3 separate regions of the Homo sapiens genome follow, and regions 1 and 3 are each linked to region 2. Evidence: fine-mapped expression QTL. A gene starts in region 2. Each other region holds a variant in brackets. All regions are shown on one strand. Distances are between the middles of the regions. Region 1 overlaps LMOD1 (leiomodin 1). Region 2 holds the start of LMOD1 (leiomodin 1). Region 3 overlaps NAV1 (neuron navigator 1).

Evidence for each region.
Region 1: its variant is fine-mapped to the expression of LMOD1 in tibial nerve (GTEx, PIP above 0.99). The same link has a PIP of 0.9 or more in atrial appendage, lung, sigmoid colon and subcutaneous fat.
Region 3: its variant is fine-mapped to the expression of LMOD1 in whole blood (INTERVAL, PIP above 0.99).

Annotation. Positions count from the first base shown.
Region 1 is chr1:201,913,861-201,922,037 of GRCh38, reverse strand. The region is part of intron 1 of LMOD1 (leiomodin 1); the gene reads left to right. Among named protein-coding and RNA genes, the nearest start is that of LMOD1, 29 kb to the left of the region's middle. RefSeq lists an enhancer at 7,329-7,829. The variant TA/A (reference allele first, on the strand shown) is at 4,396.
Region 2 is chr1:201,942,769-201,950,945 of GRCh38, reverse strand. It overlaps LMOD1 (leiomodin 1), which reads left to right and starts at 4,398. Exons shown (of 3, transcript NM_012134.3): 1 at 4,398-4,866. The coding sequence starts at 4,606.
Region 3 is chr1:201,671,753-201,679,929 of GRCh38, reverse strand. The region is part of intron 5 of NAV1 (neuron navigator 1); the gene reads right to left. Among named protein-coding and RNA genes, the nearest start is that of MIR5191, 44 kb to the left of the region's middle. The variant G/C (reference allele first, on the strand shown) is at 3,449.

The sequences.
Region 1 (8,177 bases), 29 kb after region 2:
CACGGTTTTGCCAATCTCAAAGGGCATGGATTTTGTTTCATTAAATAATGTGGTGATTTTCTTTTTCTTTTTTTTTTTGAGATGGAATCTCACTCTGTCGCCCAGGCTGGAGTGCACTGGCATGATCTCAGCTCACTGCAAGCTCTGCCTCCCGGGTTCACGCCATTCTCCTGCCTCAGCCTCCCGAGCAGCTGGGACTACAGGCGCCCACCACCACGCCTGGCTAATTTTTTGTATTTTTAGTAGAGATGGGGTTTCACTGTGTTAGCCAGGATGGTCTCGATCTCCTGACCTCGTGATCCGCCCGCCTCAGCCTCCCAAAGTGCTGGGATTATAGGCATGAGCCACTGCATCCGGCCATAATGCGGTGATTTTCTTGACCTATTCTGTAAGTCCCTTTCCTCTTCCTGATAACTCACTTTTCAGAGTCACCATATTTACTCCCGTGGTTTTCATTGCTACGTATACACCAATGACTCCCAAACCTACCTGTCAAGCCTAGATCTCCTTTCTGAGCCCCAGATCTTTTTTTTTTTTTTTTTTTTTTTTTGAGATGGAGTCTCACTCTGTCGCCCAGGCTGGAGGGCAGTGGTGCAATCTCAGCTCACTGCAACCTCCACCTCCTGGGGTCAAGCAGTTCTCCAACCTCAGCCTCACGAGTAGCTGGGACTGCAGGCTCGCACCACCATGCCCAGCTAATTTTTGTATTTTTAGTAGAGATGGGGTTTCACTATGCTGGCCAGGCTAGCCTCGAACTCCTGACCTCGTGATCTGCCCGCCTCAGCCTCCCAAAGTGCTGGGATTACAGGTGTGAGCCACTGCGCCCAGCCCAGATCTTTATTAATGCCAACCTGTTAGGCATTTAAATTTTGTCATGGCCAAAACAGTTGATCATCTCAAGTGCCACCCTCATCTCCCCGCTCCATATTCCCCGCCATGGTTATAAGCATCACTCTCTAACCAGGCAACCAAACTGGAAATCAGGGAGTCATCCTCCACTTCTCCTCGGCATTGTCCACTTCACTGAATCTTATTAACTGTACCCTAGAAATGTCCATGGAATGCATCTCCACTCCTCTGTGTTCACTGCTCAGCCTGGTCCAAGATCTCATCATTTCCTTTCTTTTTTTCTCTTCTTTCTTACTTTTTTATTTATTTATTTATTTTTATTTTTAGAAACAGGGTCACACTATGTTGCCCAGGCTGGTCTCAAACTCCTGGGCTCAAGCAAGCCTCCTGCCTTGGCTTCCCAAAGTGCTGAGATTACAGGCGTGAGCCACCGCGCCCAGCCTCCCACCCCCTATTCTATATTCGCTGGGTCCTGCACTGTGTAGAGGCCACTTGGCCTCCTTGATTTAATGGCTTGACATCCTTGTTTGCTCCCTGTCTTCCCAGTAGGTCTTGGCTTTTCTTTCTCCCTTCCAGTAGAATATCCAGACCCACCTCCTAATTGTCCTTGAGCTTAAAGACTCAGCTTACTCCTCAGCTATTTCTCAACTATGATTGACTTCCTCAGCAAGCAAGTGGAATTCTGGTCTCTGTGGCCTTGGCATAGGAAAAACCGGTGTCTCCAAGGGCCTCAGCTGCTAAAAGGGAGCTGCATTTAGGAGTTGTATTGACCCTGTAGCATGATGTCTTTCCAGAACAATTCACAAGGCCTGGGAAAGTATGTCATTTTACTGGGGTAGTAATCCCCAGTCAGAGAGTCAATGGTGGGTGGGAGGCTGAGGCGGGCGGATCGTCTGAGGTCAGGAGTTCAAGACCAGCCTGGCCAACATGGAGAAACCCTGTCTCTGCTAAAAATACAAAAATTAACCAGGCGTGGTGGTGGGTGCCTGTAATCCCAGCTACTTGGGAGGCTGAGGCAGGAGAATCACTTGAACCCCGGAGGTTGAGGTTGCAGTGAGCCAAGATCATGCCATTGCACCCCAGCTGCCTGGGTGACAAGAACAAAACTTGGTCTCAAAAAAAAAAAAAAAAAAAAAAAAAAAAGAGAGAGAGCCAGTGGCGGGTGGAGATGGCATTGAAGCCAATATATTCCTTCTACTCTTTGAAGTCCTGGGCTCTTCTGGAGACTTTAGGAAGACACTGAAAAAGGCTGCTTACAATAGTTTAGTGGCCAGGATGGAGAGATGTGGACTGGAAGGTGATGCAGGTGGATGCTGATTGGTGGCTCCCTGGAGGCCTGTAGTAGGATACCAGAGAGTTCTGCCCTGGAGTCTGCCCTGGTTAGTGGACAAAAAGATCCAGAAGGCACATGTACCACACTGGCAGATTATCTGAAGCTGAGAGTCACAGTGAGCTTTTAAACAGCAGAACCAGGATTTAGAAAATTCTAGTCAGGCTGGAATGGCAGGCTTAGTCTAACAGATGAACTTTTCTAGCCCACAGAAAAGCAGCCTCAGGGAGAGGACCCAATACCTACAGAGCACTCACATAGAAGAGAAGGGGTCACCTTGCTTTATACAGTCCCTGGGAATAACAGGACCAAATGGGCTTTCTGACACAGAGTCAGGTTAAAAAAGAAGAAAAGGGGCCAGGCGTGGTGGCTCATGCCTGTAATCCCAGCACTTTGGGAGGCCAAGGCAGGCAGATCACCTGAGGTCAGGAGTTTGAGACCAGCCTGGCCAACATGGTGAAACCCCGTCTCTACTAAAAATACAAAATCAGCCGGGCATGGTGGTGGGCACCTGTAATCCCAGCTACTTGGGAGGCTGAGGCAGGAAAATTGCTTGAACCCAGGAGGCGGAGGTTGCAGTGAGTACCACTGCACTCCAGCCTGGGTGAAGGACTGAGGCTCTGACCCCCCAAAAAAAAAAAAGTTTCTGTCTTTTAGAGATACACACTGAGGCCAGGCATGGTGGCTCACACCTGTAATCCCAGCAAAAGTGAGGCCAAGGCGGGAGGATTGCTTGAGGCCAGGAGTTTGAGACCAGCCTGAGCAACATAGCAAGACCCCAGATCTACAAAAATAAAAGTTAGCCAGGCATGGTGGCACATGCCTGTAGTCCTAGATACTCGGAAAGCTGAGGCAGGAGGATCACTTGAGCCCAGGAGTTTGAGGTTATAGTGAGCTATGATCATACCACTACACTCCAGCCTGGGTGACAGAGTGAGACCCTGTCCCTAAAAAAGAAATAGAGTACACACTGAAATATGTATGCATGAAATGATACACCTGGAATTTGCTTTCAAATAATGTGAGATTGTGACAAAAATGGGTGGGCATCAGATGAAACAAGATTGGCCATATGTAGAGAATCGCTGAAGCTGGGCAATGGGTACCTTGAGGTTCATTGTGCTGTTCTCTCTAGTTTGTTGTACAGTCGAACTTTTCCACATATAAAGTTAAAAAGAAGGAGGAGGAACAAAAGAAGAAGTGTTAGCCAGGCAGAGAAGAAAGCGAGAGGACATCCTGTGTGGCAGGAGCAGCATGCATAGGCAACAAGACCCAAGAGAGCCCAGCATGGGGTAGGGCAGCAAGACCCAAGAGAGCCCAGCGTGGCTGTTCCTCACTGTAACCAGAGTGCAGGCAGGAAGGGGAGGGCGCACAGAGGCAGGCACAGGCCAGGTCACGGAGGGCTTTGTTGCCATGCTACAAAGTCTGCACTTCATCCTGAAAGCATGGGAGCCATGGATCAGAATCACATTTTGAAAGGTCTTTCTGGAGACAGAGTGCACTCAAAGAGAAGGAAGACAGGAGGCAGGGGGTTCAGTGGGGAGGCAAGAGATGATGGAGGCCGCAAACACAGCAATGGTGAGGGGATGTGAGGAAGCTAATCTCAGCTATGTTAGGAAGGTGGGATGAAGGGAACGTGGTGAGGGAAAAAGGAAGCGTCAAGGCTGATGTCCCAGTGTCTGTGGGGTGGGAGAGCCATTCCTGAAGAGGGAGAAGGCGGGAAGACAGAGAGCTGCACCATCCCTGATCCCTGGCCTCTTAGGCCTAGGACTGGCTACAGAATTTGCAGGGCTTAGCGCAAAATGAAAATGTGCTCAAGAATTACTAAAACTTTCAAGACGATGACAGCAGAGAATTAAACCAAGCGTAGGGCCCTCTGAGCATGGGGCCCTGGAGCACTGCAGAGGTCAGACACCATAAAGCTGCTCCTGCTTTAGCCAATGTACCCTTTTCTGTTTAGAAGGAACAGGAGAGGGGCTGTATGAAAGCCAGGCCTCCTGCTCACAGCCCCAGGCAGTAAAAGAACAGTATGTTCCTTCTGCCACCCTCCGGGACCTAAGTGGGACCCAGAAGCCTGGGACAAATAGCTTGCATTTGTGTAGATCTTTACAACATTTCCCAGACTTGCTTGGGTTTTCCTTGGTGCTGGGATAAAATGAAGAAGCAGAAAGTACTAGCCAGGCACTTCAGAGAGCAGAGTGCTACAGTGACTTGTT[TA/A]TCTCCCCAAAGAGATTTCCCGGTTTCTCCAAAAATGGGGTTTGCTACAAGCTTCCCAGTATGAGTCACCAGACCAGTTGGCAAAGCATTTAGTTCTGCTGAGAGCAATGGAGTTGACCCTTCATTGGCCGAGAAGATCTGCCACAAGAACCTTCATCCCCCTAGTGATGGGTTCTGCATAACCCCCAGGCAGAAGCCAGAATGGCGCTGACTGTGAAGTCTTAGCTATTGCAGGCTGTGTTGCATGCCCTCACCTCAAAACGCCTCTGTCTTTCTCTACTTGCAGTGAATGCAGAAGCCTTGGTGGTAGGGGTAAGGGCCTAGGTGAAACACAGACACCGCTCACCGTGCCTTCCTTTCTGGTGCCTCTTGATGGCTCTTGGCAGGCTTTTGAGGTCAGGCCACCTTCCCCCATTTACCATCCCTTTCACTAGAAACCCTGGTCCTTAAAGACTCAAGGCAGGCAAGAACCCTCCCAGCCTTGGCAGAGTTTGGTGACACATGCAGTGTAAGTGCCCAGCCACCCACATCTGCACATTATCCTTGTCTTTTCCAGAAGGTTTCTTTGCTCCCCTTCCCTACAAAGACAGAGCAGGCCCTGAGATGGTGGCGTTCACTCCTCTTGTAAAGCCTGGTCTCCCGCAGGACTGCATCAGAAAATGCCCTTTTTTTCCCAGGTTCACAAACCGCTGCCCTTTTCTTGGCTGCCATTGCGCCACTCCGACCCCTGGAGATCATCTTGGGAGGTAAAAATGAATCATGGCGTTTCTGTTTATGCTGGAGCTGGAGGCAGTGCCTGAGACCCTTTGGCCCTCTGCTCAGCACTGATGTTTATCACCGGGGCTGATGTGTAATTGCTGGAACAGAGCCAGGCGAAGGTCAGGCTGCGAGGCAGGTCCTGGGCACAGCACAGCCGGGCTGAAGACTGAGCACAGTGACGGGGAATCCCCTCCCTCCCACCTCTGGCCCCATCCATCCCTCCTCCCCACACCACGGCCTGATGCCTCTTGGTTTTTAATTTTGTTTTGTTTTTGCTGTGAAACTCAGTTATTTAAAGACAATTTTGTTTCTTTTTCATAAAACAGCTTTTGTTGGTTTTTGTTTTGTTTTGTTTTGTTTTGTTTTTTGAGACAGGGTCTCTCTCTGTTGCTCAGGCTGGAGTGCAGTGGCATGATCACGGCTCACTGCAACCTCGACCTCCCTTGGCTCAGGTGATCCTCTCACCTCAGCCTCCCAGGTAGCTAGGGCTACAAGCACATGCCACCACGCCTGGCTAATGTTTGTATTTTTTGTAGAGATGGAGTTTCACCATGTTGCCCAGGACGGTCTTGAACTCCTGGGCTCCAGCTTCCCCTCACCCTGACCTTCCAAAGTCCTGGAATAGATGTGCCTTTGTTGTATTTTTCTGATCATAAAAGTAGTTCAAGCCAGGTGTGGTGGCTCACACCGTAATCTCAGCACTCCGAGAGGCCAAGGTGTGTGGATCGCTTGAGCCCAGAAGTTTAAGACCAGCCTGGGCAACATGGCGAAACCCCGTCTCTACAAAAAATACAAAAATCCGCTGGGTGTGGTGGTGCATGCCTGTAGTAGCAGCTACCTAGGAGGCTGAGGTGGGAGGATCACAAGCTGGAGGAAGTCAAGGCTGCAGTGAGCCGTGTCACACCACTGCACTGCAGCCCAGAGGAGAGAATGAGACCTTGTATCAAAAAAAAAAAGTTCAGACATTAGACACTGAAAGGCTTCGGATGGGTCTGGCCTTCAGCAAGGTCCCTGGGGCTGCCGTGCAAGGATCGCCCTGGAGGAGGTCAGCGAAACCGAGAGGAGGTTGTTGCTATAACCCCATGAGAGGTGATAGTGGCCTGGACCAAGGGAACATCTGTGAGGATGGAGGAGAGGGATTGATCTGAGTGGGGTTCAGGCTGTAGTATCTGTGTGCAGGTAACGAGGGAGTATATAATAGGTCGATTTCCCAGCCTTCCCCCAAAATCACTTGGGCTACTGGTAGGGAAGGGTGAGTGAGTGCAGAGCGGGGTGCAGAGGGGTCCACGTTGCCTCCCCACAGATCCCTCCTTTCCTCTTCCCAGCCGGGTTCTGATTGGAGTCACTGGGTGTTTAGAGGAGCCACTTGCCCAGATAGGGAATAGTGCAGGGGTCGGCAAGGCAGTGGGGGAAGATAAGGAGTCCAGTTTTTGAGGTACTTTGGGGCACACAAACCAAGATATTCATTAGACGGTACTACCTTCCTAGTAGTGTCTGGCCCAGAGATCCAGCTTTGAGAGACATCAGTACGTAGAATGCAGCTGATGCCATCAGAATGGATGAGATAATCCGGTGAGAGGCTCTAAAGGTGAAAACAAAGGAGGCCTAAAATAAGACCTTGCCAACACCCACATGTCTCAAGGAAGAGGGTCCTTGAAGGAGGCCTAAAGGAGCTATCAGAGAGCTAGGAGGAAAGCCATGAAGGCTGCGGTGGAAACCGATGGGGAAGCGTTTTGAAGGAAGGACCTGGCCAATAGCGCCAGATGCTTCCCACGCAGTTTGAGCAATATATGAAATAAAAGATAAATCCGACTTAGTGACAGGAGGGTCAGAAGTGATCTGGATGAAACTAATTTCCATGGAATGTTGGGGGTGAGGCAAGAGTGTGTTGGATTGAGGAATGAATACGGATCAAAAAGTAGAGCTCTTTGAGGAAGTTTGGGTATACGGGAAGGCTGGCGCTACAGCTGGAAGGGACTGTGGACAGAAGGAGGATCTGATTAACCGGGAGAGATGGGCAGGTTTAAAGGGTGGTGGGAAGGGGCCAGGAAAGAGGGAGAGGCTAAGGCTGTGGAAGAGGGTGCGGGAGTGCAATGTGGGGAGGAGGGGTGGGCACCAGAGTGCGTGGGGAGGGGTGAGCCTGGGCAGGAGGAGAGGGAAGGTGAAAGATGAGCCTGGAGGTGAGTTTGTAGAAGAGGTGGCAGGAAGTTGGAGAATTGCCATGGGTTGTTTCCTCTGTCTGCCTGGGAAGAAATTAGAGGAGATTGTCTGCCAAGAATAGGGGTGGAGTGGGACGAGAGATACTAAGAGAAGGGAGAAGAATTCGGATAGATGCTATGAAGAACCAGGAGAGAGCTAGACCCATAATGACAGTTACCTTTTATTGAAAGCTTCCTGTGCAGCCACAGGAAGTGGATGTGTTATCCACTCACCTCAATGAAGCCTTAATACCGCCCCGTACCAGATGTGATCCCCGTTTTACAGATGAGGAAGGCAAATTAACCTGTCCATGTTGACATAAGAGCAAAGTGTGGAACCCTGGCCTTCTGACTCTCAAGCTGGTCCTCAGCATTGGCGCCACTTGTGAGTGTTAGGGTTCACAGGGGCTGCAGACAGTGGACGGCACCACGTGGGGTGTGGGCTACTCTCCCCAGATAGCCCAGCACCTGGGAGGAGGAGCCACACAGGCCTGCAGTCAGTGCTTTGGCTGTAGGGTTGGGGCTTTGGCTGGCACGTGTGACTGGGGTTGAGGATACTGGCAAGGTGATGACTGACGTGCTGGATAGAACAAGAGGTGAAGCAGTCAAGGTGGGTGGTGCAGAGAAGTCAGAATTTGGGTCTCATGGCCAGCGGTTCCACTTTTGGGTCCATCTACACTCCCAAAGAGTTGAAAGCAAGGACCCACACAGATATGTTCATAGCAGCATTATTCACAATAGCCAAAAACAGCCCAAGTGTCTATCAATGGATGAATAGATAAACAAGCTACATAAATTATACATTTTATGTATAATTTACATAA
Region 2 (8,177 bases):
TGTCGGCCAGGCTGGTTTCAAAATCCTGGCCTCAAGTGATCAGCCCACCTTGGCCTCCCAAAGTGTTGGGATTACAGATGTGAGCCACTGTGCCTGGACAAGGTTTTTTTTTTAAGAGATGGGGTCTCACTCTGTTGCCTGGGATCATCTTGACTCCTGGCCTCAAACATTCATCCCACCTCCTCGGCCTCCCAAAATGTGGGGATTACAAGCATAAGCCATCATGCCCGGTCTGGTTTTTTGTTGTTGTTTTGTTTTGTTTTGTTTTGTTTTGTTTTGTTTTAGAGACGAGTCTCACATTTTCCCTAGGCTGGACTCAAACTCCTGGGCTTAAGCAACCCTCCCGCCTCAGCACCCCAAGTAGTTGGGACTACAGGCACACATCACTGCACCCAGCTCGTAGATGCTCTTAATATCCTCATTTTCCATTGCCTAAGGCTCAGAGAGGTTAAATAACTTACTTAAGGTCACACATCTCAGATTTGAGCCCATGTCATTTGACTCCAGAGCCTGTAGTCTTATCTGCTATACTATACTGCCACCCTATATTCCTGAAAATGTGACTTTCCTGGGGTCATTCAGCCCAACTGAGAGCCACCTAAGCATTAATTAAATTGGTTCTGGATCCTCATTCTTCCCTCCTGCCCTGCACCACATTTTGATTGGAGCTTTGAGTCTCTTTTCCTTCTTTTCTCTCCCCATCCCTCTAGCGACAACAGTGCTTGTTTTTCTCTGGGGAATAGACAACGGCCAGGGTCCTGATACCCAGGATGGATTTGTTTCAGGTGGAAGTTGATTCTGAGCTGGAACAACCAGTGCTCCCTACAGAGTGGGTCGGGCAGTGGCCTCTCATTGTAGGGGCTGGAGGTGGCTGTACTCCCTGGCCTCTGGGTTCCCAAATCCTCCAGCTCCAGCTGTGATGCCTTTCAAGGGAAGACTTTTGGAGTCTGTGAGCAGTGTCAGGGAGCTCTTGGGGCTCCAGGGAGTAAAAAGCTTCTGACTGAGTCATGTCAGAAGAACCAGCGATTTGGAATTGGGAGACCTGACACAGAGAAGATACTGGGGTTAATGTGTAGAAACCTTTGGTTAGGAGGCATGAGTCCTGCCCTTTACATTTGAAAGCTATGGATTTATTTTTTTGAGTGTCTTCCTGGAGCAGAGACCACTGGGCCCAAAAAAGAAAACCACTGAAACCAGATGGTACAGGGCTAACCCTGGGGCTGAAGGTAGTGATTTGCTTTTAGGCCCTGACTGCTCCTCAGGGAGCAGTGAATATTTTTGGCAAAAAGCCTGAGAAAGAGTCCTTGGAAACTAGAAAGAGAATTGCTTTCAGCTGACTGGGAGGCTAGAGGTTGGCTGAGGTCCTAGAGCCAGGGACCCCAGAAGATGATGCTTTTTTCTGGGCAACACTGAGGGTGAAGGCCAGCTGACCCAAAGGGGGTACAGGGGGAGGGGATGGGCATAGGGAGTGCCATGTCCACCCAACATACCTAACTAAAAGCCCACTCCAGCATGGCTGAAACCCTTTGTTATGCCCTCTGAGATGACCACCCTGACTCCTCCCCACAAAATTAATGTGTCTTCCACTGGGTTTTTTAACAGTTGGACCTCTCTGCAAGACTCCTTGTACCTCTCTAGCTTGCTTCACTTTGCCTTACAGTGTAGTTATTATTATTTTTTACCCCATTGAATTATACATGTTTAAGAGAATAACAATGTTGTAATGACAATGTTGTAGTGCCTGGCAGGATGCTATATATAAATAGTAGTATCTGAATAAATGTTTGAATGAATGAATGAGAACCAGGTGAGAAAGTGTGTGTGTGTGTGTGTGTGTGTGTGTGTGTGTTTAGAGGGTGTTTACTCTTGAGAGAAAGAAATAAAAAGATGAGAGAAAAGGTGGGATGGGAAGAAAAGAACCCAGGACAAGAGTAAATAAATAATTATAGCCAGGCGCTGTGGCTCACGCCTGTAATCCCAGCACTTTGGGAGACCGAGGCAGGTGGATCACCTGAGGTCAGGAGTTCAAGACCAGCCTGACCAACATGGAGAAACCCCATGTCTACTAAAAATACAAAATTAGCCGGGCATGGTGGCTCATGCCTGTAATCCCAGCTACTTGGGAGGGTGAGACAGGAGAATTGCTTGAACCCGGGAGGCGGAGGTTGCAGTGAGCCGAGATCGCGCCATTGCACTCCAGCCTGGGCAATAAGAGTGAAACAGAGTTTCCCAATAAATAAATAAATAAATAATTATAATAATTAATAATAAATATGGTGTTTACCATGTACTGGGTATATCAATGAAATGTTGTCATGTGTAGGACCTAATTTAATATTCACAACAATTGTATAAGGTTGGTATAACTGTTGTCCTTATTTTACAGATGATGAACTCAAGTCTCAGAAAAGAAGGTAGCTTGCCCAAGTCACATGGCCTGTAAGTAGCAATACCAGGACCAAATACAGGTCTATTGGCCTCAAAGGCCCAAGCTCTTCACTGTTAAATCATACTTCTATTCAGCCTCCTCTTGTTGTGTTTTCCCATAGCCCCTGTGCTTGCTCGCTCTTTCTTTCTTTCTTTCTTTCTTTCTTTCTTTCTTTTTTGAGATGGGGTCTTACTCTGTTGCCCAGGCTGGAGTACAGTAGCGTGATCACAGCTCACTGCAGCCTCAACCTTCTGGTCTCAAGCAATCCTCCCACCTCAACCCCCTGAGTAGCTGGGACAACAGATGCTCACCACCACATCAGGCTAATTTTGTTTTTTTTTTTTTTTTGGAGAGATGGGGGTCTCATTATGTTGCCCAGCCTGTTCTTGAACTCCTGGACTCAAGCAATCCTCTTGCCTTGGCCTCCCAAAGTGCTGGGATTACAGACATGAGCCACTGCACCTGGCCTGATTTTGTATCTTTAGTGATATCTCTTGCTCTTAGAACAATGCCTGATATATAATAGGCACTTGATAAATCACTCAATAAATATATACCTACGGTTTGACCAATAAGTTGGCTACTGACTCTTAAAATGACAACCCCCAGGTTTCCCTAAAGTCTTCTTCCACTCTTCCTATCAAGTCTGCCTGCCTTCCTTCTGCCCTTCAGTCCCCCCAGTGGACACCATTCCCCTCTTCAGCCTTAACCTAAAGTTGGACTAGTGGACATTAAATGGCACGGCCAAGTTTTAGTCCCAGACGATCCCTGGACTCAGCAAATGCTGATCAAGTGACTGTCTCTCTCTGGCTTAGGATGGAAAGATGCCAGGAAAGATCGAAGCATCTACCCTGATGGGTTACACCAGGGCTTCTAGAAGGGATTTTGTGGCAGGAGGAAGGGGGGCAGGGGATTGAATGTCTCTGTGACTTGTGCAGGGCAGCATGATGGATGAGCAGTGGAAAGCCCTTCTATGAAACATGCCAGACCTGTTGCAATCGTATCTCTCCCGACGGCCCAGAATTCTGTTTCCCTGAAGACATACTAAATCGTGCTCTGGATTTATATGTGGGTGGTGACCTGCCTCTGTGCTCCCAAAGGAGGTCTGTCTACAGATGCCCGGCAGAGGAAGAAACAGATGACAACAGGGGGAGGTTTGAACCCTCTTCCCAAGAGCCTTGGAACTTCATGGAAAGTGACAGCCCTTTAAGAGTTTCCCGACTTCTGCAGATCCTTCTCTCTTTCCCAAACAGCCTGCCAGTTTTCAGTTTTGGTACACAGTAAGGATTTATTCTCTCTCTCTCTCTCTCTCTCTCTCTCTCTCTCTCTCTCTCTCCCTCTCCTGCCTAGCTATCTCTATCTCTAAGTTTGTCTTTCTGTCTCCTGTCTCTCTCTTAAGAAGTGGCCAAAGGATCCTGGAGCCTCTGATGCTCAGCCTTCAGGTCCTCCTTGGCAGAACCTGGGTAGAAAGAAAATGGGTAGGCAGGGGGTTAGGAGTAACAGCTCCTCATCTTGAATCTAGACTTTCCTGGAGCTGTATACACCTGGGAGCCCCCCAGCACATTACCAAATACTGTAGAAGGAAGTCCATGAACCACACATTGACCACAGTGATACGTCCACCCGGTGATGGAGTAGTAAAATACGCTCTTGAACGTGCCCCGGGCTGGCGAGTTCACCGGCCCTCATGGCCTCGTCCCTGCTTGTCTGGCTCTCCGTGGCTGTGATCTGCTTCTGCCAGCCTACGCATTTTTGTATCTTTTTCTCATTGCGTGGCCCCTTGTCTTTAAAAGGCTAAACTGCTCTGTACTAAATTTGGTCACGCAGCGCTCCAAGATTCCCTGGAATGTCCTCAAGTTTCAAACAGCTCTGACAGCGAGGTAGGCCCGCCCCCAGCTTGGGGATTGGCTTCTCCTCTCCGGGCCTGGCAGTTGTCGGGTCTTATTGGCCGCTGATTAGACCAGCCGGGGTCCACTAGCCCTGGGCTTCAGGGAGGCTGCTGCGTCCAGTGAACACTTCAGCACCTGTAGCACAGAAGGGCCAAGGAGCTGCAGTCCTCGACCAGCAGGAGGTTTGCTCCTCAGCCCACTCGCTGCATCCAGATCAGCTCACCCCTCTCCCTTCCCTGCCCACCAGGACTCTGATAGCCCCTGGCAGCCACAGCCCATTTTGCCAAGATGTCTAGAGTAGCCAAATATCGCCGGCAGGTGAGTGAAGACCCCGACATCGACAGCCTGCTGGAGACCCTGTCTCCCGAGGAGATGGAGGAGCTGGAGAAGGAGCTGGACGTGGTGGACCCAGACGGGAGTGTTCCCGTGGGGCTGCGGCAGAGAAACCAGACGGAGAAACAGTCCACGGGTGTGTACAACCGGGAGGCCATGCTCAACTTCTGTGAAAAGGAGACCAAGAAACTTATGCAGAGGGAGATGTCCATGGATGTGAGTGAGCACAGCCCTGGAGGGGAGGAGGGAGACAGGGGAGGGCTGGAGACCCTGGCTTCATGATTAGGATGCTTCCTTCCTTAGAAGAAACGTTCTTGTTGGCAAAGGATTTTAATGCTTCAGAACTGATGATTATCCACTGAACTAGCGGTGCGAATCTCTTACTCCTAATTTCTGTTTTATAAGCAGAAGTCGGATATGTTGGAGGAACACAACATCCCACAAAATCAAATAGAGCTACTAGTAGAATGGGAGCTGGAAGGTGTCCTTGAAGAGTCCATTGTCAAGTTGACTCCATCCTGGTCCCACAATACCTTTGTTTTTCTCCACACTCATTCCATCCTATTGTGAGGAGGGGTAAAAAGAGAGAGTGATACTTTATGTCTCCTGTCAGCCACCCAAAAAGACAAAGCTAAGCCATTTTTTGTGGGAGAATAACTCATTTTCAAGTCCCCAACCCTATGGGCATCTCACGGCACATGGATCATTTCAGGAGGCTTGGGGGTAAATGAGTTTCCCAAAGCAAAGGGAGACAGGGACCAGGAGTCTATGGGCTGGGAAATGTGGCTTAAAGACCTGATAAGCTTCAAATTTATTCCCAGGGAAGATGTTTTTTGTTGTGGTTAGTTGGTTTTTGGTTTTGTTTTGTTTTTGCACTCTCCAGAGGAGCCTCTGGAGGGAGCATGCCCTCTTTTTGGTAATTAACCCTTTAGCAGCTGGCGAGGCCGCTTTGCTGGGGGTTGAAGATAGTCATAGAGGAGGGAAAAGGGGTGACGGTTTTGGAAGCATCTGCCCACACCTACAATGGGCTTAAGCACAACTTGCTTTCTGTTTTCCTGAGTTGGCATGGAGGAATTTTTTTTTTGTCACTATTGCATTGGTATGTGAGTTTTCTTTGGACAAACTAGCCTCCGATGAAGTATGACTTTGTGGGATACCTTTGTCCATGGGAAAGAGTGTTGCATAGGAAAATTGTTCAAGTCTTTGTTCTAGTTCTCTTATTCAGCCACATCTCTTGTACATTATCCATTACTTGTGAATTCTTGCAAGAAAAAGATCAGTCTCAATTCTTGCTTTTTGTTTTACTTCTATGGAAACTGAGGCACAGAGCTTCAAATGACATGCACATTCTCACAGAGGAACTGAGAATGGGAACATTATCATCCAAAATGCCTGCGGAATGACTGGCTGGGTATGAAATTGTGTTGACTGCTAGTCACAGAGCATATTGGTGGACACAGCCCTGACTCCTTTAGTGTAGCAATGGGAAAGAAGGGAGGAGGAGGGAAGGGGGTGAAGCAAAGAGGAGCTGGAACTCTGTCTCTGTCCCTACCGCCCCCCCCCGCCCCACCACCTATGTTTAAGCCTTTGCCAAGAAGAGGGAGAAGGAGGGAGGAAGGAGGGAAGCCAGGAGGCTCAGGAATTTATTGTCCTGTATGCACAAGGTGGTTGCCCCAGATGCAGCTATGATAATGATAAATAAAACCAAAACATTTACAGAAAAAGTGGTAGCACTTACTGTGAGGGCCCGGTACCCCAACACAGCTATCAGGAATCATACAGAAAGAAATGAAATGCAGCCAAAGGCTTTGGCACCCTTGGAAATCGTTGACTCTGCTCTTCCCCACTCCCAGTCGCAGGCTCTGGGCCCATGACTGCCTTGTGTCCGGTAGCTTCCAGTGCTCAGAAAGGTACTCCTGAGGCTGAAGTCAAACAAAGCAGTCTAATCACAAGCAAGAGTGTGAAGGATTCTCCTGTTCCTGGAAATTTCACTATCATAGACTTTTTATTCAGCCAGTTAATACCGTGACAAGTGTCTCCTCCCCTGCCTCACCTCTCTCACCCCTGCCAGGTCCACACTTGGTTCTGCGGACAGAGCCCGAGTCAAGAAATAGAAGTGGTGTGTGTGTTTGTGTGTACATCCTTGATGTAAGGAGATGCCTTTAGGTCCGGTTTTCCCTTGTGGATGTAGGCTGTTCTGATCCCCTCACTCTTCCTCACCCTGTCCAGGGACGTACATTGGCATAATGGCTGGCTGGAGTTCGGGGTGCATGCTGAGCCTGGGCAGAAGTCATCTCTGTAAATCTGGGTGAGAATGAACCCTAGAAGGTGGCTTCTTTGGCACCATTAACAAAATAGTGAGTGTGTGGCCAAGAACTTGGATTTAAGTATTAGAAAAACCTGGTTTGAGTAATGGTGTCTCTGTGTAAGTCACAAGTTACCTAATCTAAGCCTCAGTTTCATCACCTACAAAATATGGATAGTAGTACCCATCTCACAGGGTTGTGAACACTAAAAGCGGTGCTGCGGTAGAGCACTTAGCACAGAGCTTGGCGTGTCATAAACACTCAGTCAAGGCCAGCTATGAAATTATTACTTCATCTGAGTCAAGGAACCCAGAAACCGGTGAAGTGGGCCGAAAGCAAATCTCTACTCCTGTCCAGCCCCTCTCTTCCCTCAGTTTCCTGAGGGCTGTGCAAGCCTCACCTGTCAGTTTAATGAGTGGCCCGAGTAAACAAGCAACCCCTGGGTGCTCAGAGTGGGGACCACCAACACCACAGACACAGCACCGTGCTGGGGGCAGGTGGACTCCAGGCTGCTGGCCTGGCTGCAGCCCTCACTGACGGTGGCCTTCACTCCATGTGAGGAACTGAAAAGTGGTCAAAACAGAGAGTAAAGCAAGATGAGCATTTACTAAGAAACTTCTACATGCCGAGCACATTCACCTTTTCTTTAAGCCTTACGATTCTTGGGAGATGTGTATTTTTATTCCTATTATCTTAGAGAGGTTGAATAACCTTCCCAAAGTCACACAGCTAATTAGTTGAGATCAGTGCTTCTTCCTCTCTGCCATACTAGGGTGCAAAAAAGACAGTAATGTCAGTCCCTGCCCTGAAGAATTTGTAATCCAATTAGATTCCATGCAAAACACACATGGATAGAACCATCAGAGAGTGCTACAGAGCAGAGACCACAAATTCTTATATTGGCTGATATAATAGTCTTCTGTCAAATGTTCATCTCCCTGCCCCCATGAGTAGGAACATAACTAGAAAAACTAAGTGTGGATTAGGGAAAGTAAATCCTGACTAGATAGTGGATGCTGTTAAGGAATTTCTATTAATTTCTTTTAGGTGTGATAATGGCATTGCAGATATACTTTTTAAAGGATTCTTTTCTTTTAGACATAAATACATAAATATTTATGGGAAAAATTTATTGGCTTTGGGAATTAGCCTTAAAATAATCTGGGTGGGGGTATATATAGATGAAACAAGATTGGCCACCAGTTGACAATTGTTGAAGCT
Region 3 (8,177 bases), 270 kb after region 2:
AATCAATCACTGAATAAATGGGGGAGAGCAGACAAGTCTCTCATACAGAAGAATTCCAAATAATTTACAAGTATTATGATTTATATAGGAATGACAAACCTATGCTCCATGCCCCACATCCCTCTTTGCATCACTCCAAAGCAAAGCCTCCCTGAGAGAGCAGAGTGCAGTGGCCAGGAACCAGACACCTGTTCAAAACCCCTTTCCAAAACTTACTAGCTGGATGACTTCAGGCAAGTTACTCAACCTCTCTGCCTCAGTTTCCTCATTTGCAGAAGGAGGACAAAAATAATTTCAACTTTGTCGGCCTATCATGAGGACTTAAGACACGTGAAGTATCTGGTGACTGGGGGAAGACAGCAATGTGCAGAGTTATTAAATAGAATAAGTATTTGGTACATAGTAAGGGCACCATACATTTCAATAACTGGTTTGTAGGGGTTCAGAAGGGAGATGTTGAGAGGAAGGAGGAGGTCTATAGAAACCACAGAGAAGGTTACCTACAAACAGCTTTCAGCAGAGGGGGTCCTCAGGGGTGCCAGGCAGTCTGAGATGGAAAAATCAGGACCTTGCCCTTTAGGGGTGGAAGGAGCTCTGGGCTGCTCATTTTCACGTGGCTGACTCACTTTCCCAGATGCACACCGGTAATTAGAGGACCAGGGTTTCTGGTTCTCCAAGCACCTCCAAGCCCTTTGGGAGATGAGTTGTAAATGAGACCACTGCCGGTTTTGTGAAGAGAAAGGTGCTTTGAGGGCCAGCTGGCCTCCCTCTGCCTTAATTGTGGCCTCTCTGCCCGCAGGCTCAGGAGGTTGGCTCCCCGCTGCAGTCAGGCAGGAGGGGGCTTCATTTGGGTAACTCCTGCACATTGCTGTCTCCCCCCCAGTAAATAGCCCCACCTCCAAACCCCCAGCATCCTAACCACCTCCTCCCTTCTGGGCTCCCCGACCTTTGTCTCCACGGGAGCCTCCCCTCCCTAGCATCCTGTGTCCCAGCTGGAAGCAGATGGAGGGGAGGGGCTGCCAAACCCCTCTCCACCCCACTGGATGCCTCACGGGCTCTCTGGTGGGAGCCTTCCTCCTTCGACTTTTTCTCTCAGAGCTGATGCTGTTGAGTTTGGGTTGGGAGGGGGGACAGACAGAGGGAGGTGTGTCCTTGAGTTTGAGCTTGTGGGGAGATTCGTTGTGGTGGTGAGTGGGTGGTAAGAAACAATGAATTTGCAGGGATGAATGCAGCCTGGGACTTTGGAAAGCAGCCTCTTTTGTTGGAGGCTGGGTGAAGTCAGAAAGCTAAACAAAATTGCTGATACAGTTACTCCTTTATCACTCCTTTCTTCTTCGCTGAAGGGGCTGAAGTTACTAGGAAACTCACTATAGGAGAGGAGTTAAGAGTGCAGGTTTCAAATCCTGGCTGTGGCAATTATCAACTCTGTGACTTCCAGCGGAGTCCTTGCCTTCTCTGTGCCTCAACACCCTCATCTGTAAAATGGGGACAAGAGCACCTACCTCAAAGAGTTGGAGTAAAGACTGATCAAACTATTACTCATAAAGTGCTTAGTTCAGTTTCTTGCACACAATAAGCACTTGAAACACACCAGCCATTGGAGCGCTATCAGCAGCTTTCAGGAAAGTTCAGAAAGGCTTGCTTTGGCAGCAGCAGCTTACGTTGAGAGGTAGGAGGCCCGGACTTGTGTTCTAGTATTTCCACAAACTCACTGCCAAGTCAGTTCATAACGTAGCTCCCTCATTTACCTTTTGGGGATATTAATATTTGTCCTACCTACTTTATCAGGGTGGTGCGAAAATGCAATCACATTTGGCAGGATACATTTCTGAGATGTTTAATTCATGGTGCCTCCCTCTGTGTAATTCCACTCCCCAGCTCCCATTCTGAGCAGGTCACCAGGTTTCAAAACTCTAAACTTCGGGGACATTGGACAGAATAGGAAGCAGAATGGGGCAGCATGTTTGGTGAAAGCTTCAGGCTATTAGGAAGGTGAGTTTGGCCGGGTATGGTGGGTCACGCCTGTAATCTCAGCACTTTGGGAAGCCGAGGTGGGCAAACTGCTTGAGCTCAGAAGTTTGAGACCAGCCTGGGTGACATGGTGAAACCCCATCTCTACCAAAAAATAAAAAAAATTAGCCAGGCGTGGCGGCGCATGCCTATGTTCCTAGCTACTCACGAAGCTGAGGTGGGAGTGTCGCCCATGCCTGGGAGGCGAAGGTTGCAGTGAGCGGAGATCATGCCACTGCACTTCAGCCTGGGCTGGAGACCCCATCTCAGAAATGAAACAAACAAACAAACAAAAAAGATGGTGAGTTTAGGGGAAGGGAAGAGACCACTTTTGAGAAGCAGAGAGTGGGCAAGGCTCTCCTGAACTAGAAATGAAAAAAGCACCGTGAGTCCCAGGAGCAAGCAGTCAGATGCATTCCCACACCCTGAGGGGGACGGGGTGGGGTAAACAGGAGGAAGGGACATTGGGCAGAGGCTGCTGGCCTTGGCAAAGAAGTCCATGTCCCATGGCACAGAACTGGAGAGGCACTGAGGAAACTTGCAGGGATCACAACATAGTGGTCCTTTCCTGTTTTCCAAGCTTTGCTCAGACCTTCTGGACCTGGGGTGAGCCTGGGGTTGGGGGAAAGGATGCCAGCCGCCAGCAATTCTTTTTTTTTTTTTTTTTTTGAGATGGAGTCTCAATCTGTCGCCCAGGCTGGAGTGCAGTGGCACAGTCTTGGCTCCTGCAACCTCCACCCACCAAGTTCAAGCGATTCTTCTGCCTCAGCCTCCTGGGTAGCTGGGATTACAGGCACGCACCACCATAACCAGATAATGTTTGTATTTTTAATAGAGACAGGGTTTCACCATGTTGGCCAGGCTGGTCTCAAACTCCTGGCCTCAAGTGATCCACCCATCTCAGCCGCCTAAAGTGCTGGGATTACAGGCATGAGCCACCGCGCCCAACCAGACCCCAGTAATTCTGACTTGAAATGTCTTGCCACTCAGGAGGGTAGGGGCTCAGAAGTAGAATTACATTGGTTTAAAGACAATCAAGAATGGGATGTTTGTTGCCTGGCCAAGTTTGTGGGCTGCTATTTAGATCTATTACACACAGATTCCAAAGCTTAAAAAGTATGGAGTGCCAGAAACACAGTATTTGACATGATTATTAATTATCTAATTATTTTGGTATAAAAATGTTTGGCAAGAGGGGAATGGGGAAGGTTCGCCAGGGCCAGAAAGGGCTTGGGCTGCAGCTTCTGAAAGATTGTGTTCACCTTTTAAAAGCAGAGCTGGTTGGGTGTTGCGGGGAGAATGGTGGAGGAGCTACCGGGAACCCCAGCCTGGACCACTGGGGTGAAACTATTTCCTGCGAGTCAGCTCTCCCCAGCCGCTTCCCTCGCTGTGTGGCCTGCTTTGCCTCCCTGAGGCTCCCTGACTCCTCCCCTCCACT[G/C]AAGGTCCCAGCACAAGGAAAGGGGACAGAGCTGGGCCTGTGCCTAGGAAGCCGACTCTGTGTCCTCCTCAGCACTTCTGGGCAGCTGCATTTCAGTCTTGGGAAGGAGAAAGGGAGAGAAAGAGTCCCTGAGCCCTGAAACCTGAGCCCAGCCTGGCTGAAATAAGTGCAGCTTTCAGGAAGGAGTCAAACTTTCTCAGGCTAAAGCTTCCTCTTAAAAGCAGAGGGAGTGGCTGCTGGGAGGCCAGGTCTCCAGAGTCCCCAGGGCACTTCCAGGAGGACCTCTCTGCAGGAGGCCAGAGGTCTGTGCCTCAGTAAGGATTCATTAACACCCTATCTCAGAAAGAGGGGCTGGAATTATCTCCTTTTGGTAGGCAATAGGGTAGGAAGCAGAACCGGCCAGCATACTTGGTGAAAGCTTCAGGTGAGTTTAGAGGAAGAGAAGAGATCACTTTTGAGACGCAGAGAGGGGGCAAGACTCTCTTGAACTAGAAGTGAAAAGAGCTTTAGGTACAGGGGAAACTGGGGCTTGGGATGGTGATTTGGGAATAAATAATTCTAATTATGAATGATGATTTATGAGGCCGGCCACTGGGCCAATGAAAAGTTTGCCATTCTTTTCTTCCCTCTTGAGGCTCCCCGTCTGCCATCCAGCTTCAGAAAATGGTTCCAGATAGGCAAACTTCGTTGCCTCAGGAGGCCAGGGTTTAGGGTGGAGTGGAGGGAGAACATGAGTTTAGAGAAGTGAATTTGGACAGAACTGTAGGGGTTGTACCCCTCAAATTCCATCGCTTTGTTTTAAACATCATCCCACTTTCAGGAAAGGTAACTTGGGGAAGAAGATGGAGGGAAAGAGACGATATTTAAATGTGCAAATTCCTCTGGGATGAGTAAAATACAAACACCTTACCAAGTGCCTGGTTCATTTTTTGTTGTAAGTTAATGGTAAGTAATAGTAGTGTTTATGGAGCAGTTCCTTTGAGCAGGCTAAGTGCACTGTCTAAAAGCAGGGACTTTTATCTCTCTACCATGGTGAAGAGGAAGCTGAGGTTACACGAGGCTGGCCAGCCCTGGCCTTGTGACAAGAAGTGCCCGGTCAGAAAGGAGACGATAAGCATGGAGGATCCCGGGGCAGGGATCTCAGGAGCAGGGGACAGGCAGCAGTAGGACATTAACTTTGTGGCTTTTATGGTTTTGTCAAGGAGCAGATTTGGCACTGAAAGATACTGTCAAGCATTCACCAAGGAAATGGAGGACATGTTGGTGTGACATGGTGGTGGACAGATTGGTACCTGGTGTAGTCTGGAGGCCGTTCCCTCTAAATCTCATGTGGAAAGGTCATCCCCAGGTCAGAGGTGGGGCCTGATGGGAAGTGCTTGGGTCATGGGAGTGGATCCCTCATGGCTTGGTGCCATCCTTGCCATAGTGAGTTCTTTTTTTTTTTTTTTTTGAGACAGAGTCTCACTCTGTTGCCCAGGCAGTGACGCGATCTCCGCTCACTGCACCCTCAACCTCCCAGGTTCGGGCAATTCTCCTGCCTCAGTCTCCAGAGTAGGTGGGATTACAGGTGCGCGCCACCACACCCAGCTATGTGTGTGTGTATTTTTAGTAGAGATTGGGTTTCACCATGTTGGCCAGGCTGGTCTCAAACTCCTGGCCTCAAGTGATCTGCCCACCTCGGCCTCCCAGAGTGCTGAGATTACAGGTGTGAGCCACCGTGCCCAGCCAGTTTTCGTGAGATCTGGTTATTTAAAATTGTGTGGCACTTACCCCCACAACTCTCTCTTTTGCTCCCTCTGTCACCATGTGACAAGCCTGCTCCCACTTCACCTTCTGCCATAAGTAAATGCTCCCTGAGGCTCCTTTGAAGGCTGAGCAGATGCCTGCACCATGCTTCCTATACAGCCAGTAGAAACATGAGCCAATTAAACCTCTTTTTTAAATAAATTATCCAGCCTCTGGTATTTCTTTACAGCAACGCAAGAATGGCCTAACATACATGTTTTGCTGGAGGGCCTCCAGGAGGGCTCCTGGTACCAGCAATGACTATTTCTTAGAAGCCCTGGGCTGGGCCCTGGACAACCCCCCCCAACACACACTCATTCCAGGAGGAACCCAAGAAGGGCACAGAACAGAATCATGGGTAGTGCGGCACTGCGGCAGACATCCCCCACCACCCTTCCTCTCTGCTGCAACCCCTCTTCCAAAATACTTTTTGATTTTAGACAAGTTTCCATGGCAACCCAAGTCCCCATCAGCCAGAGGGTTACCATGGCGACTTAACTTGGCTCTGCGTCCACAGCTAAGGAGGGCCCTACACCTTAGCTGGCAAGCAAGGCTCACAGAAAATCAAGTGAAGGGAGGATTGAGGCCTTGGCTTGCTGTGGGGCATCTGGGCACCTGGACACCTGGGCTGGCCACCTGCCAGGCCTGGCAGCGAGGTCTTAGAGCAGTGGCTGGCGCAGTCCCCAACAGGACTGAGAAATGTTGGCTTAGGCTTTCCTAGTCTTTGGTTGCCGCTTCAAGGCACTGACTGGGCCCTACCTTCAGATGAAGCACCTTCTCCATGACTGCTGCCCTTCACGTTTGACCTCTTCTAAGAATCCTTCCCTAACTCTACCTGGCTTCAATAGCTTCTCTTCGACATTCTCTTGGTATTTATAGACTCAGTTTACAAAGTGCAACTCTTGGGCAATATTCCACATCTAGGCTCTAGACAAGGCTGCTATTCAACTGCTATGCCCCTTACAGTGCCCACGGCTACATACATTCTGTCCTATGCCTGTGCCTTCCCTTGTTAACGATCTGGGTCTTGAACTCTTCTGCCCTCTCTCCCACATCAGAATGGGGGCTCTCTGAGGGCAGGGCCTGTTCCTTGCGTTTGAATTTCTGCATTGAGCTTAGCTGAGGATGCAGAGGGATGGGGAGGTGAGAATGGCCAATGCTGAGAGTGGCCAATAGTAATGTGCCTGACCCTCCCAGCTGTGAAAAGGAGAAGAGAGATGTGAGGTCAATTTTCATTTTTTGGGAGGCTGACAATCTGGTCTGTAAATAATTGAGGCTGCTACTTCAGCTGTTTCACTGTCTCTCCATCTCCCATTTTACCACTCTCCAGCTACTATGCCAAGAGAAGAGAACAGAAATGAAATCTGATAAGTGTGTGCCTCCCACGACCATCCCTTATAGACGCACTCTCGCTCTGCTCGTAGATGCCGCGGCCCATCTGTGGGGCCTGCCTGCCCACGGGCCGGAAGTGTTGGACTCAAAAGCAATCCATCAAATGCGGAGACACATTTGCACTGTGTTCTGAAATACATTTTTAACTTTTATTGCATTCTCACAGAGCCTAAAACAATAAATTCATTAAAGAACAGCAAGAGTGTAGATTAAGCTCACTTTTCTATTTAGCCTGCAAAAAGAGGTGTGTTTAAAATTAACGGCAGTATTTTTTTTTGTAAAGACCAGAGTCAGGCTTTTCTTCGGTACTGCTTGCTGATTGGCCAGTGGGCAGAGTTCTACATGTGGGCCTAACATGCACCCCAAGGGCTTCAGTCGTCCCCACTGGCATCGCCATCAGTCTATGTGCGTCCACAGGGCAGTCGAGCTTGAGCGTCTGTTGGGCGGTAAGTTCTCAGAGCCCAGTCTGTTTGGCAGGTTTTTTACAACATGCAAACCAAGCTTGCCTTCCAGAAGCATCTGAGTCCTGCTCTGACCACAGGGACTTCTTATAGGCTTTCTTAGAGCATCATGTATATCCCTCTGCAAAGCCACCTTATTTCTATGACACCCTGAAAGGCAGCAGAGCCCAATGGTTAAACACACGGCGTCTTGAGTTCTGCCACTTACTAGCAGTAAGAGCTTAGATAAGGAACTTAACCTTTCTTTGCCTCAGGTTCCTGGCCCATAAAATGTGAATGATGATCACAATAACATCTACCTCATAGAAGGGCTGTGTGGGTTCACTGAACTATTATACATAAAGCACCCAGAACAGGGCCTGGCACAAAGAAATTGCTCTATTATCCAAAATCTGGGTAAACTGTCTTGACAACCAGTTCCCAGGGACTTTCTGTGCTTAGAAAGAAGGTTCTTTTAGGCCAGGGACTTTTCAAATTGCAGGCTGTAACTCATTTGTGGATCATGAAATCAATGTAGTGGATTGCAACCAGCAATTGAAAAAAAATTAGACCACATACAATACAATCAAGAAATCACACATACAAAAAACTTAAATATATTGTGCATAGTATTGTTTCATAAAACTTTTGACTCAGTATGTGTGTACTGAGTTTGCTGAAAAATGTATTTCTGACTTGGAGGATCAAGGTGGGAGAAAAAACGTTTCAAATACAGTGCTTTAGGCTGTTGTCAGTTAGTAGTGGCCTCAGTGTGAGTGAGTTCTTGGTTCAGTCCTGAGAGAAAGTAGAGAAGGAAGAAGAGAGAGGAAAGCTTTGGCAGGCTAAAGAGGAGAGACGGGACACTGCTGATAGAGTGGGAGTGGGAGAGAGGCCGGGATGCGGAGGATCAGGATGGCAGAGAGAGTCTTATATCTCTGACATTTTACCCTAAGCTGGGCCTGCTCCTTGTGGAGAAATGGAGCCTCTCTTTTAAGGTTTAACCTCGAGACAGCCTGACATTACTCACCAGAGATAGAAGCCAGCATCGGTATTGTGACCAGTGGCATGGTTCCCCATGGGAACTCCCAGACCAGAGCCCCTTATGGCCAGGT